Linked DNA regions of Homo sapiens: all the other regions are linked to region 2. The links come from fine-mapping of genetic effects on gene expression. A gene starts in region 2. Each other region holds a variant in brackets. All regions are shown on one strand. Distances are between the middles of the regions.

The links. PIP is the estimated chance that this variant, and not a neighbour inherited with it, causes the effect.
Region 1: its variant is the best candidate, but not a certain one, in a credible set for the expression of RBPMS2 in fibroblasts (GTEx, PIP 0.78).
Region 3: its variant is the best candidate, but not a certain one, in a credible set for the expression of RBPMS2 in prefrontal cortex (GTEx, PIP 0.90).
Region 4: its variant is the best candidate, but not a certain one, in a credible set for the expression of RBPMS2 in whole blood (TOPMed, PIP 0.53).

What each region holds. Positions count from the first base shown.
Region 1 is chr15:64,571,682-64,574,361 of GRCh38, reverse strand. All of the region lies in intron 2 of ZNF609 (zinc finger protein 609), which reads right to left. The region is part of intron 4 of LOC101930091 (a long non-coding RNA gene); the gene reads left to right. Among named protein-coding and RNA genes, the nearest start is that of ZNF609, 110 kb to the right of the region's middle. RefSeq lists enhancers at 1,997-2,096, 2,127-2,196. The variant G/A (reference allele first, on the strand shown) is at 1,025.
Region 2 is chr15:64,774,532-64,777,211 of GRCh38, reverse strand. It overlaps RBPMS2 (RNA binding protein, mRNA processing factor 2), which reads left to right and starts at 1,623. Exons shown (of 8, transcript NM_194272.3): 1 at 1,623-1,979. The coding sequence starts at 1,893. RefSeq lists enhancers at 70-915, 916-1,762 and a silencer at 1,198-1,447.
Region 3 is chr15:64,804,054-64,806,733 of GRCh38, reverse strand. No RefSeq gene overlaps it. Among named protein-coding and RNA genes, the nearest start is that of PIF1, 20 kb to the left of the region's middle. RefSeq lists enhancers at 1-37, 545-1,053. The variant G/C (reference allele first, on the strand shown) is at 1,163.
Region 4 is chr15:64,808,670-64,811,349 of GRCh38, reverse strand. No RefSeq gene overlaps it. Among named protein-coding and RNA genes, the nearest start is that of PIF1, 16 kb to the left of the region's middle. RefSeq lists enhancers at 1-84, 85-592, 2,115-2,622. The variant T/G (reference allele first, on the strand shown) is at 1,489.

The DNA of each region.
Region 1 (2,680 bases), 200 kb after region 2:
TAGGCCTAGGGCATGGTGGGACAGGAACTCCATCAATAAACCCCTGCAGGTTCCTTCTTTACCAAGCTGTATCCTTAACCTATCACAGAAAAGGCAATAAAACAAAAAACTACTGACAAAAACTTCTCAGAGAGAAAGTAAATTCTCAAATGGGGTGTGGGTGCCAAAAAAAAAAAAAAAAAAAAAAAAATCCAGCATGAAAGAGAAATAAAAGCTCAAAAAAGGCTAATGCAGTGCCACAATTCCAGCTGTTAGCCCCTCAGTGAACAGGGGCCCCTAAATCATAACATGAGAGAAGGCTGGTAGTTTTTTAGCAGGGGCAAGAGCGGGGTGTGGTGAGAGCAGGAATTGATGAAAAATGTGATGGTCTCTACTAATTCATACAGCAAGTTCCTAAACAGAATAATGTTCAAGTGGCCTCATTTTCCCCTTCATTCACCACTCAATCACAAGGACCTGAGGTCCTGGGTTTTCTGCAATAACCCTGATTAAAAACTCCATCCAACTGTGTTTGGATTTGGGGTTGCAAGGAAAAAAATGAATATTTTACATATAGTTCATCCCAAACTCCCTTGCACAGAGTTTGAAAGAACATGGTAAACCCACATATGCAGGCAAAGTAAAATGCCAAATAGACAAGGGTGAAATAGGCAGGAGATGGATCCCTGAAGGTCCAAAAGTATTGAAAGTTGGCCTGCTAGCCAGGCACAGCGGCTGACGCCTGTAATCCCAGCATTTTGGGAGGCCGAGGTGGGCGGATCACGAGGTCAGGAGATCAAGACCATCCTCAACAAGGTGAAACCCCATCTCTACTAAAAATACAAAAAAAAAAAAATTAAATTAGCCAGACATGGTGGCGGGTGTCTGTAGTCCCAGCTACTCGGGAGGCTGAGGCAGGAGAATGGTATGAACCCGGCAGGCGGAGCTTGCAGTGAGCCAAGATTGCGCCACTGCACTCCAGCCTGGGCGACAGAGCAAGACTCCGTCTCAAAAAAAAAAAAAAAAAAAAAAAAAAGAAAGTTGG[G/A]CCACTAACTCTACTGCAGAATTACTTGCACTGCTTTTTGAAAATACAGATTATGATTTAATGGAAAGTATTCCATGGGACTTGTCAGTTGACTGCTATTTAGGAAAAAAAAAAAAAAGATCAAACTCCTTAGAAGTCTTACTTGACCTGGTTTCTGCTTACTTTCTCATCTCATAATCACTCTTCTTCACTCTAAACTATTCCATCATTCTACAAATATTTATTCATGTCTGCTACACGTTGGCACTGTTCTAGGTACTATGAATGCATCCTAGGACTGCCATGTAATGGTTGCTCAATTATGTCTTGTATAATTGGCTGAGGAGGCAAGAGGAGGCCAAAATCTAGGTCCATGCTTTTCTAGCCGAACTACGTGTCCCGCGTGGAGCCACAACCTTTTGGAAAGGAGACTTTCTTTTCTTTTCTTTTTTTTCTCAAGACGGAGTTTTGCTCTTGTTGTCCAGGCTGGAGTGCAATGGCACCATCTTGGCTCACCACAACTTCCGCCTCCCGGTTTCAAGCAATTCTCCTGCCTCAGCTTCCTGAGTAGCTGGGATTACAGGTATGCAGGCATGTGCCACCATGCCCGGCTAATTTTGTATTTTTAGTGGAGATGGTGGTTTCTCCATGTTGGTCAGGCTGGTCTCAAACTCCCGACCTCAGGTGAACTGCCTGCCTTGGCCTCCCAAAGTGCTGGGGTTACAGGTGTGAGCCACCGTGCCTGGCATTCTTTTCTAATTTACTGGAAAAAGTCCCATGGGCTAAGGGAGGACCTGGCAATAACAATGAACAAATCAGACAAACATCCCTGTCCTCAGGAAGCTTATATCCCATTGTGGGAGAGACAACCAAAATAAATTATATACTATGTGGGACAATAATAAGTGTTATGGAGAAAATAAAACAGGGATCAATCTCCCTGGCTCAAGTGATCCTCCCACCTCAGCCTCCCAAGTACCTGGGACTACAGGCACATGCCACCATGCCCAGCGAATTTATTTTTTGTAAAGAATGAGGTCTCACAATGGGGCCCAGGCTGGTCTTGAACTTTCAGACTCAAACGATCTGCCTACTTCGGCTTCCCAAAGTGTTGGAATTAGTCATCAGCTACCACACCTGGCCAGTTTTAAATACAGTATTCAGGGAAGAACTCACTCAGAAGGTGACATTTTTGTTTACAGAACCATGTCAAACCCATTTCCCCTCAGGCCTTTGCACTTGCTGTACTTTGCCTAAAGTTCCTCTTTCCCTTTCTCAACTTTTGCATACCTAGCTTTTTATCTTTCAGTATCAGCCTAAATGTCACTTCCTTAAGGGCAACTTTCCAGCAACACTAAGTAGAATAGCTATCTATATCCCTAGGCAGTCCTAACCAAACAAAGACTCAAGGCCGGGCTCACACCTGTAATACCAGCACTTTGTGAGATCACTTGAGGTCAGGAGTTTGAGACCAGCCTGACCAACATGGCGAAATCTTGTCTCTACTAAAAAAATACAAAAATTATCCAGGCGTGGTGGTGGGCACCTGTAACCCCACCTACTTGGGAGGCTGAGGCAGGAGAACTGCTTGAACCCAGGAGGCAGAGGCTGCAGTGAGTGAAGATCTCACCACTGCCCTCCAGCCTGGGCGATCCTGGGTGACAGAGTGAGACTGAC
Region 2 (2,680 bases):
AGTGTTGGCAACAGGGCTGATGGGAAACCAGGGTGCTCTTGGCCTTGCCACCAGCAGAAAATGGTCCCCAGCCCACAGTAGGTGCTCAATAATTATTTACTAAAGGAATGAGTATATCATTGGAAAGACATTGCCCATCTCTAGGCCTCAATTTATCTGTGAGATGGCAGGTCAGGATGGAGATTATAATTTACTGGGAAGACTAAGCCACAGCACAGTGATCCTGTGGTGCTAGTCCTACCTAATTCAGGAGGTCGACACACAGAGGTTCTGGGGGCTCAGGCACTTGTCCACGGTCTGGGATCCTAACCAGTCCGTGACTGCAAATCCAGCTTTTCTTTTTTCTTTTCTTTTTTTGAGACGGAGTTTCGCTCTTGTTGCCCTGGCTGGAGTGCAATGGCAAGATCTCGGGTCACCGCAACCTCCGCCCCGTCCAGGAGAAGGGGCACTGAGGAGGGACCCAGTTCTCCCGCGGCTCTGCCGGATTCAGGCTGCAGCGCTTCCAGCGCTCCCCGAGGTGGGTGCGGGTTTCTACTGTGGCAGCAGGGCGGGCCCCCATCGGCTGGGTTTTCAAATAGAAGAGAAAACCGACCCAGAGGCCGCGCCCTACTGACCTGCGCGGGGGTGCGGGGGGAGTCACGACGACCTCCCCCACCTCCCCCAGCCTCTAGGCTATTACATCCGTCCCCAGCCTTCGGGCTCAGAATAGGAGGCAGGGAAAGGTGTGAGGGGCACTGAGGTCGGGGGAGGAGCGAGAAGACCCGAAAGCCAGGCGTGTTGAGGGCAAGGTGGGCAACAGAACCTTCTTGGTCATTCGAGGCAGCCCTCGCTAATGACCATTGGGGTCCCAACACTCGAATCCCCACCTAAGTCCTATTCAGATAGTGACTGGGAGTGGGAAGGGAGTTTGAGATCCTAAGTCCCACCCTCTGGGCTGGGAGCCTGAGGCCAGAGAGGGGAAGTGATTTCCTCAAGGTCACTCAGCAAAACAGCGCCCAGCCCGGGCCAAAGCTCAGGTGTCTCCCAACCCCCTCCCCCCGGCCATCACCCCCAGAACTCGGTCCCCCGGAGCTGAGGTCTGCGCGACTGGATTTAGGGGCAGAATGAGTGCGTCGGGAACCCCAAAACCCTAGATCAAGATACAAGGGGAGTCGACGGCCCGGAAACCTCGCTGCGGGTGCCCTAAGCGCGAGGCCGCCCGGGCAGGGCCGCCCAGGGACCGGGGCGCTGGGTGCGGGGCACGGGGCTCCACCTCCCGCGGGCTGGGGCGCGCAGCGCGCGGCCCCTTTAAGAAAGTTCGCCGGGCGAGTTCATCAAAGTTTAAAAACTCGCCGTGGAGAAGGGCGCGGGGGAAGAGGAGAGAGGGAGAGCGCTGACCCAGGCGAGAGAGAGGGGAAAGGCCCGGCCGGAGGCCGGCGCCCCGCGGCCGGGGCCGGGGCGAGCCCACGGTGGGCGGTGGGGATTGGCTGCGCGTTCCCCCGGAGACCGCGCGGCGGGCGGGGGAGGGGGCTGGCCGGGCCCCAGCTGAGGCCGGTTCCGGCCCCGCCCCCCGCCGCCGGCGCCCGCCCCCTCCCCCGGCGCCCGCCCCCCGCCGCCGCTGCCGCCGCCGCCGCCGCCGCGGCGCACTCGCCGGTCGCAGTGAAAAGGCGGAGGCGGCGGCCCCTCCGGCTCCCACTGCCTCCCCCGCCGCACCCCCTCCCCACCTTCCGCACCCGCCAAACTTGATGTGACCCTGGCCCGACGCGGAGGCTGCCCCTCTCACTGCCCCGTGGGTCCCCCGCCACCCGCTCCGCACCCGCGAGCGCACCGCTCCCCGCGCCCCTTCCCACTTCCCGCGGGGCCGGCGCCGCGCTCGCCCTCGCGTTCCTTCCCGCCGCCCCCTCCCCCGCACCATGAGCAACCTGAAGCCGGACGGCGAGCACGGCGGCAGCACCGGCACCGGCTCCGGCGCGGGCTCCGGCGGCGCCCTGGAGGAGGAGGTGGGTCTGTGGCCCCGGGACTTGCCGGGTGAAGCGCACGCCAGGCGGGCGCGGGAGAGGGCGAGCGGGGCCTGCCGCGCCTCGCGGGGCCGGGGTGGCCATCGCTCCCGGCGCCTTCCCGCCGCTGCCCTCTCGCCCGGGTAGGAGCGGCCCGTGTCCGCGGGCGGGAGCGTGCGGCCTGGACTGCCCCGCCGGACAGGCATTGTCTCCCCGCCCTCTCGGGCTCGAGGCGGGCCGCGCGCGCCGGCCGCCGTCCGGGCGTCCCGCGGTGGGCGAGATGCGCCGCGTCCGTTCCATGCCTGCCGCCCGCGCGCCCCTTGCTCCCCACCCCGTAGCCGCTCGCCGCCCTCCTCCGAGGCGCACCTCCTGCGTGGCCAGGACCCCGCCTCGGCGGCACGGAGCGGAGCGGGATTAGCACGGCCCGAGGGCGGCACCCTCACTCCACTGCCTTTTCCGCCCTGACCCCCTCCCCGTGACCTTGGAGGCCTGGGCCGGCCGGCTCCTCGGTTCCTGCGAGCTGTTGTCATGGGGGTGGGCGGGCTTTCTTCACAGCCCCAGAACCTGGGCTTTGGCAGAGGTGAGCCCACAATTTAATTAGTTTGGAAGATGACTAAAGACACTCAGTTCGTCCTTCTCCTCTCTCTGGGTTTGTCCTGGCAACCAAGCCAGGACCCCAAAGCTGGCCTGGGTGGGATCCTGCC
Region 3 (2,680 bases), 30 kb before region 2:
TTCCTAGTCTTTCCCCCAGGTGGCTGCCTCCCTGGCCTCCCTTCTAAGCATCGCTAATCCCCCTGTGGTCCTCATATGACTGAGACGCCCTCTCCAGGGTTCAAAAAGATGGTCAGGGATCTTTTACAGATCATGTTGCCTCCTCGGGACCAGGAGCTTACTCCTCAGGCATGTGAGCCCCAGCAGGCCGGCCCCACCCCTGTCAGGCTGGACTGGGGGCTGGGGGACCAGAGGGAGGAAGAAGCCCTAGCCTCGCCTTCCTCTGCTCACTGAGAACTGAAAAAACCACAGTGGTCAGTTGGTCCAGTGGCCTCACATCACAGATGAGCAAACTGTGGCTCAGGGAATGGGAAGGAAGGCCCCAGGGTCCCCACAGTGAAATAGAAGCTGAGCTGGGTCTGACTGGAGCCCCTAATAACCTAAGGTGGGGGCTTCATCCTGGGAAAAGAGGGTCTATTATAGGAGGAAATGCAGCCACTGTCACTGCCCCAGTGTTAGTGTGCTTGTTGGATGGGGCGGGGGCGGTGGTGCCTGGAGGTGGGAGTATGTGAGGGTGAACTTTGTGTTTAATTGGGGTGTACTTGATCTTCTCTGGGTCTTTCTAGCCTGGCTCTACCGTTAACCTCTTGTGTGTCATTGGGCAAGCCCCTTTCCCTCTTTGGGCCTCAATTTCCTCCTGTAAAATGAGTTGGAGAGATCTTTGAGATCCCTTCCAGCTCAGACCTCATGCATCTCCCATCAGCCCAGCCTCATCTGCCCACCTGTTTCCAGGCTCCTGCCCTGGCTAAGGTTGTCTCACAGCCTGCTGAGGCTCCCATGGCCTCTCTCAGAATGGTCTCTCTCAGCTGGGCGCAGCAGCTTATGCCTGTAATCCCAACACTTTTGGGAGTTCAAGTCCAGCCCGGACAACATGGTGAGACCTTGTCTCTACAAAAAATCAAAAAAACATTAGCTGAGTGTGGTGATGCATACCTGTAGTCCCAGCTACTCAGGAGGCTGAGGCAGGAGGATTGTTTGAGCCCAGGAGGTCAAGGCTGCTGTGAGCTGATAGTGCCACTGCACTCCAGCCTGAAGGACAGAGCAAGATCCTGTCTCAAAAAAAGAAAAGAAAAGGCCAGGCATGGTGGCTCACGCCTGTAATCCCAACGCTTTGGGAGACCAA[G/C]GCAGGTGGATCACAAGGTCAGGAGTTCAAGACCAGCCTGGCCAAGATGGTGAAACCCCATCTCTACTAAAAAAATACAAAAATTACCGGGCGTGGTGGTGGGTGCTTGTAATCCCAGCTACTCCGGAGGCTGAGGCAGAGAATAGCTTGAACCTGAGAGGCGGAGGTTGCAGTGAGCCGAGATCGCGCCACTGCACTCCAGCCTGGGCGACAGGGCAAGACTGTCTCAAAAAAAAAAAAAAAAAGAAAAGAAAAAAAAAGAAAGGACTGGGCACAGTGGCTCACACCTGTAATCCCAGCACTTTGGGAGGTCAAGGCAGATGGATCACTTGAGGTCAGGGGTTCAAGACCAGCCTGGCCAACATGGTGAAACCCTGTCTCTACTGAAAATGCAAAAATTAGCTGGGCGTGGTGATGCGAGCCTGTAGTCCCAGCTACTTGGGAGGCTGAGGCAGGAGAATCACTTGAACCCAGGAGGTAGAGGTTGCAGTGAGCCAAGATTACACCACTGCACTCCAGTCTGGGTGACAGCGAGACTCCATCTCGAAAAAAAAAAAAAAGAAAGAAAGAAAGAAAAGAAAAAAATTAGCCCAGTGCAGTAGCACACACCTGTGGTCCCAGCTACTTGGGAGGCTGAGGTGGGAGGATTGCTTGAGCCTGGGAGTCAAGGCTTCAGTGAGCCGAGATTGTGCCACTGCACTCCAACCTGGGTTACAGAGCAAGCCTTGTCTCTAAATAAATAAATAAATAAATAAATAAATAAATAAATAAAAGAATGGTCCCCATTTCCTCATCACATGCATTCAGCACATCCCTCCTGCAGTCTTGGACCCTGGCTGAGTTTCCTCATCTGACACACAGCAATGACAATCCTCCCTTGAAGGGTCTGTGGTGTGAACACCCAGTGGGACACACCCGTGGGGCTTGGGAAATGCTGATGGCTTAACCAGCAGTCCCAGCTTTTCTGCACTGAACAGAAAGCCTACTCGTCCCACCTCACTCTCCTTCATCCAAGTTGACCAGGTCCTCCAAGTTTGGTTCAAGTCTTCTTTTCCTCCAAAAAGGCCAGTTCAGTTCCCCTCTGTGAACTGGAGCTCCTACAGGGCTGGACTTCCACTTGCCTGCCTCCATCAGCAGCTCCTACCATCCTGTGGGAATGCAGAGCTAGGGGCTCCAGGAGACCCAGCTACTAGGACATTTGATGAGGAAGTGGCTGGGTCTGAGGGCTCATTCCCACAGAACATGACTCCTCCTGCCCCAGAGCTGTTTTTGACACGGGATTATCTTTGACCTTCAGAAACATCCTTGCTGCCAACTCTAAAAAAGCTCAGAGTTGGCCAGTCGCGGTGGCTCATGCTTGTAATCCTAGCACTTTGGGAGGCCGAGGCAGGTGGATCACGAGGTCAAGAGATCAAGACCATCCCTGGCCAACATGGTGAAATCCCATCTCTACTAAAAATACAAAAAAATTAGCTGGGCATGGTGGCATGCACCTGTAGTCCCAGCTACCCAGGAGAC
Region 4 (2,680 bases), 34 kb before region 2:
TATGGAGAATTCATTATGTAAGCATGATTGATTAACCATTGGTCATCAATTTAACTTTCAGCTCCCTCCCCTCCCCTGAGGTCATAGGGTGGGGCTGAAAGTCCCAACCCTCTAATCCTGCCCTGGTCTTTCTGGTGACCAGCCCCATCCTGAAGCTGCCTAGGGGCTGCCGGCCATCAGGCAATCATCAGCATACAAAAAGACACTTATCACTTTGGAGATTCCAAGGATTTTAGGAGTTGTATGCCAGGAAATGGGGATGAAGACCAAATGTATATTTCACATTCTTACAGGCTGTGCCACTGCTGATGGGGGCAGGGGGCACCCCTTCATTTCTGTTTCCTTCCTAGTTGGGGGATTTCGCACTCTCCTCTCCACTCTCCCACAGGAAGGCTGGAGTTGACTTTGCCAGGTGGACGAGTTGGAGAAAAGGTGTTTGGAGAGAGGAGCTACACAGTGCAAATGCACAGAGATGTGAACTATCCTTGATGGACCTATGGTCCACTTTAAAGGCTTTAATGCAAGAGAAGGTGGTATGTGGGGAGGCTGGCCTGGCCCTGAGGGGGCTGAGCCCAGAGTAGGGGGCTCAGCCCAGGGCGATCCAGTCCCCAGCTGGGAGGCAGGCAGGGGGCCAGGCAAGAGGGGCGGGGCGATGGCCCTCAGAAAGATAATCTTATGACCTGACTTGTCACAGTTCCTGCCACTTCTCAAAGACATTCACCCTTGGAGGGGGAGTCCCACTACCTGCTGTCCCTCCACTTGCCTCCTGTGCCTTATGCTCCCTCCTCAGTGTCCCCTGGGATCTGCATCTGAGGGTAGTGAGCAATTTACAGCTCAGTCTCCCTGCTAGGATGAAGCGGATCCCTTGATCCCGAGAGACACAGCTGAGATGTCTTTGTGTCCTCACAACCCTCAGCAGGATGACTTTTGAAAGCAGATGCTTCATTAAATGTTTCATAAGTGAACAAAGGCTTGGACAGTGACCTGAGAGGTAAGGAATGTTTACTCCCATTCTGCAAAGGAGGTAGCTGAGGCCTGGAGAGGTTCTTAGTGGCAGAACTGGAACTAGAATAGAACCCTGAGCCCTGTGCGCTCCTTCACCCTGTCTTCAGTGGGGTGCCAACTAGGCCTGACCCCATCCTTTCTGACGTCCTGGTATATTTTTCCCATCCGCACTGGGCTAATGATCTTACTTAACCCCCAATCCCGGAGCAGCCGGGCCCTCCCGCTCCCCATGCACTGCAGACCACTAGGTGGCGCCAATTGGTCATTCAGTCCTTTCCCAGGGAACCGCAGAGCCTTTGTCTCCCAGTCTCTGGGCTTAGGTGGGGGGTGCATGGACACTTTAGGAGGTGGGGGCTGAGTTAGTGTAGAGCAGGGAAGTTTTAAATAATCTTCCATCAGATTATCTGCTTTGTGCTCATTAACCCTCTTGTTGGTTTGTTTTTGTTTTTGAGATAGGGTCTAGCTCTGTCACCCAGGTTGGAG[T/G]GCAGTGACGCAGTCAGAGCTTGCTGCAGCCTCGAACTCCTGAGCTCAAGCAATACTCCTGCCTCAGCCTCCCAAAGCATTGGGATTACAGGGGCGAGCCACCATGCCCGGCCTCATTAACCCTCTAGTTTGTTTTTCACAATAACCCTGGGAGGTTGGGACAATTGTCCCCATTTTATAAAGAGAGAAACCTAATTTCTTTTTCTTTTCTCTTTTTTGTTTTTTTGTTTTTTTTGAGACAGTCTTGCTCTGTCACCCAGGTTGCAGTGCAGTGGTGCCATCTCAGCACACTGCAACCTCTGCCTCATGGGTTCAAGCAATTCTCCTGCCTCAGCCTCCCGAGTAGCTGGGATTACAGCTGGCTAATTTTGTATTTTTAGTAGAGACGGGGTTTCTCCACGTTGGTCAGGTTGGTCTGGAACTCCCGACCTCAAGTGATCTGCCTGCCTTGTTCTCCCAAAGTGCTGGGATTACAGGCATGAACCACTGCGCATGGCTGAGAAACCTAACTTCTGAGAGGTTAGGTGACTTGGCTATGGCCACACTGCAAGCTGTATCTGGAACCCAAGTCCCAAATAAAGGGTCCTGGGATTTTTGCAAAGTCAGCAGAGAGCCCTGAAGCCAGATTCCTGTGTTTAAACACTGGCCCCATCAGTTCCCGACTGTGTGACTGTGGTTATTCTGCTTAAATCTGAGCTCTGGTTTCATCGTTGGTGAAATGGGGATAAAGCCGATCAAACATGGATGGAGTTAGGAAGACAGAAGAGCTGGAGTCAGGCCAGGGATGCAGCAAACCCTCAAGGTTAGCTCTTATTTATTTGTCTTGATTATTGTCACCTGAAGGGGCCATCCCCCGCCCCATTAACCCCCTCTTGAGCAGCCTCTGGGGAATAACAAAGAGAATTCACAGCAGCCCAGAGTAAATGAATGCCATCTTTCACAAAGCCTTCCTTCCTGTCTGGCCTTCTGGAGGACCTGGGCTGCGCCCACCCACCATGGGGAAGGGGAGGATGAAATCTCCCCACTCTGCCTCCCGCAACACACGTGAGGTACAGGTCCCGGTCAGTTAGTGCACTTGGGCATAATCCCCCTTCTGTCTTCTGCCCATTTTCTTATGAAAGCGACTTCGACAACTCTAAAGTGGAATTTTTTTTTTTTTTTGAGACGGAATTTCGCTCTTGTTGCCCAGGCT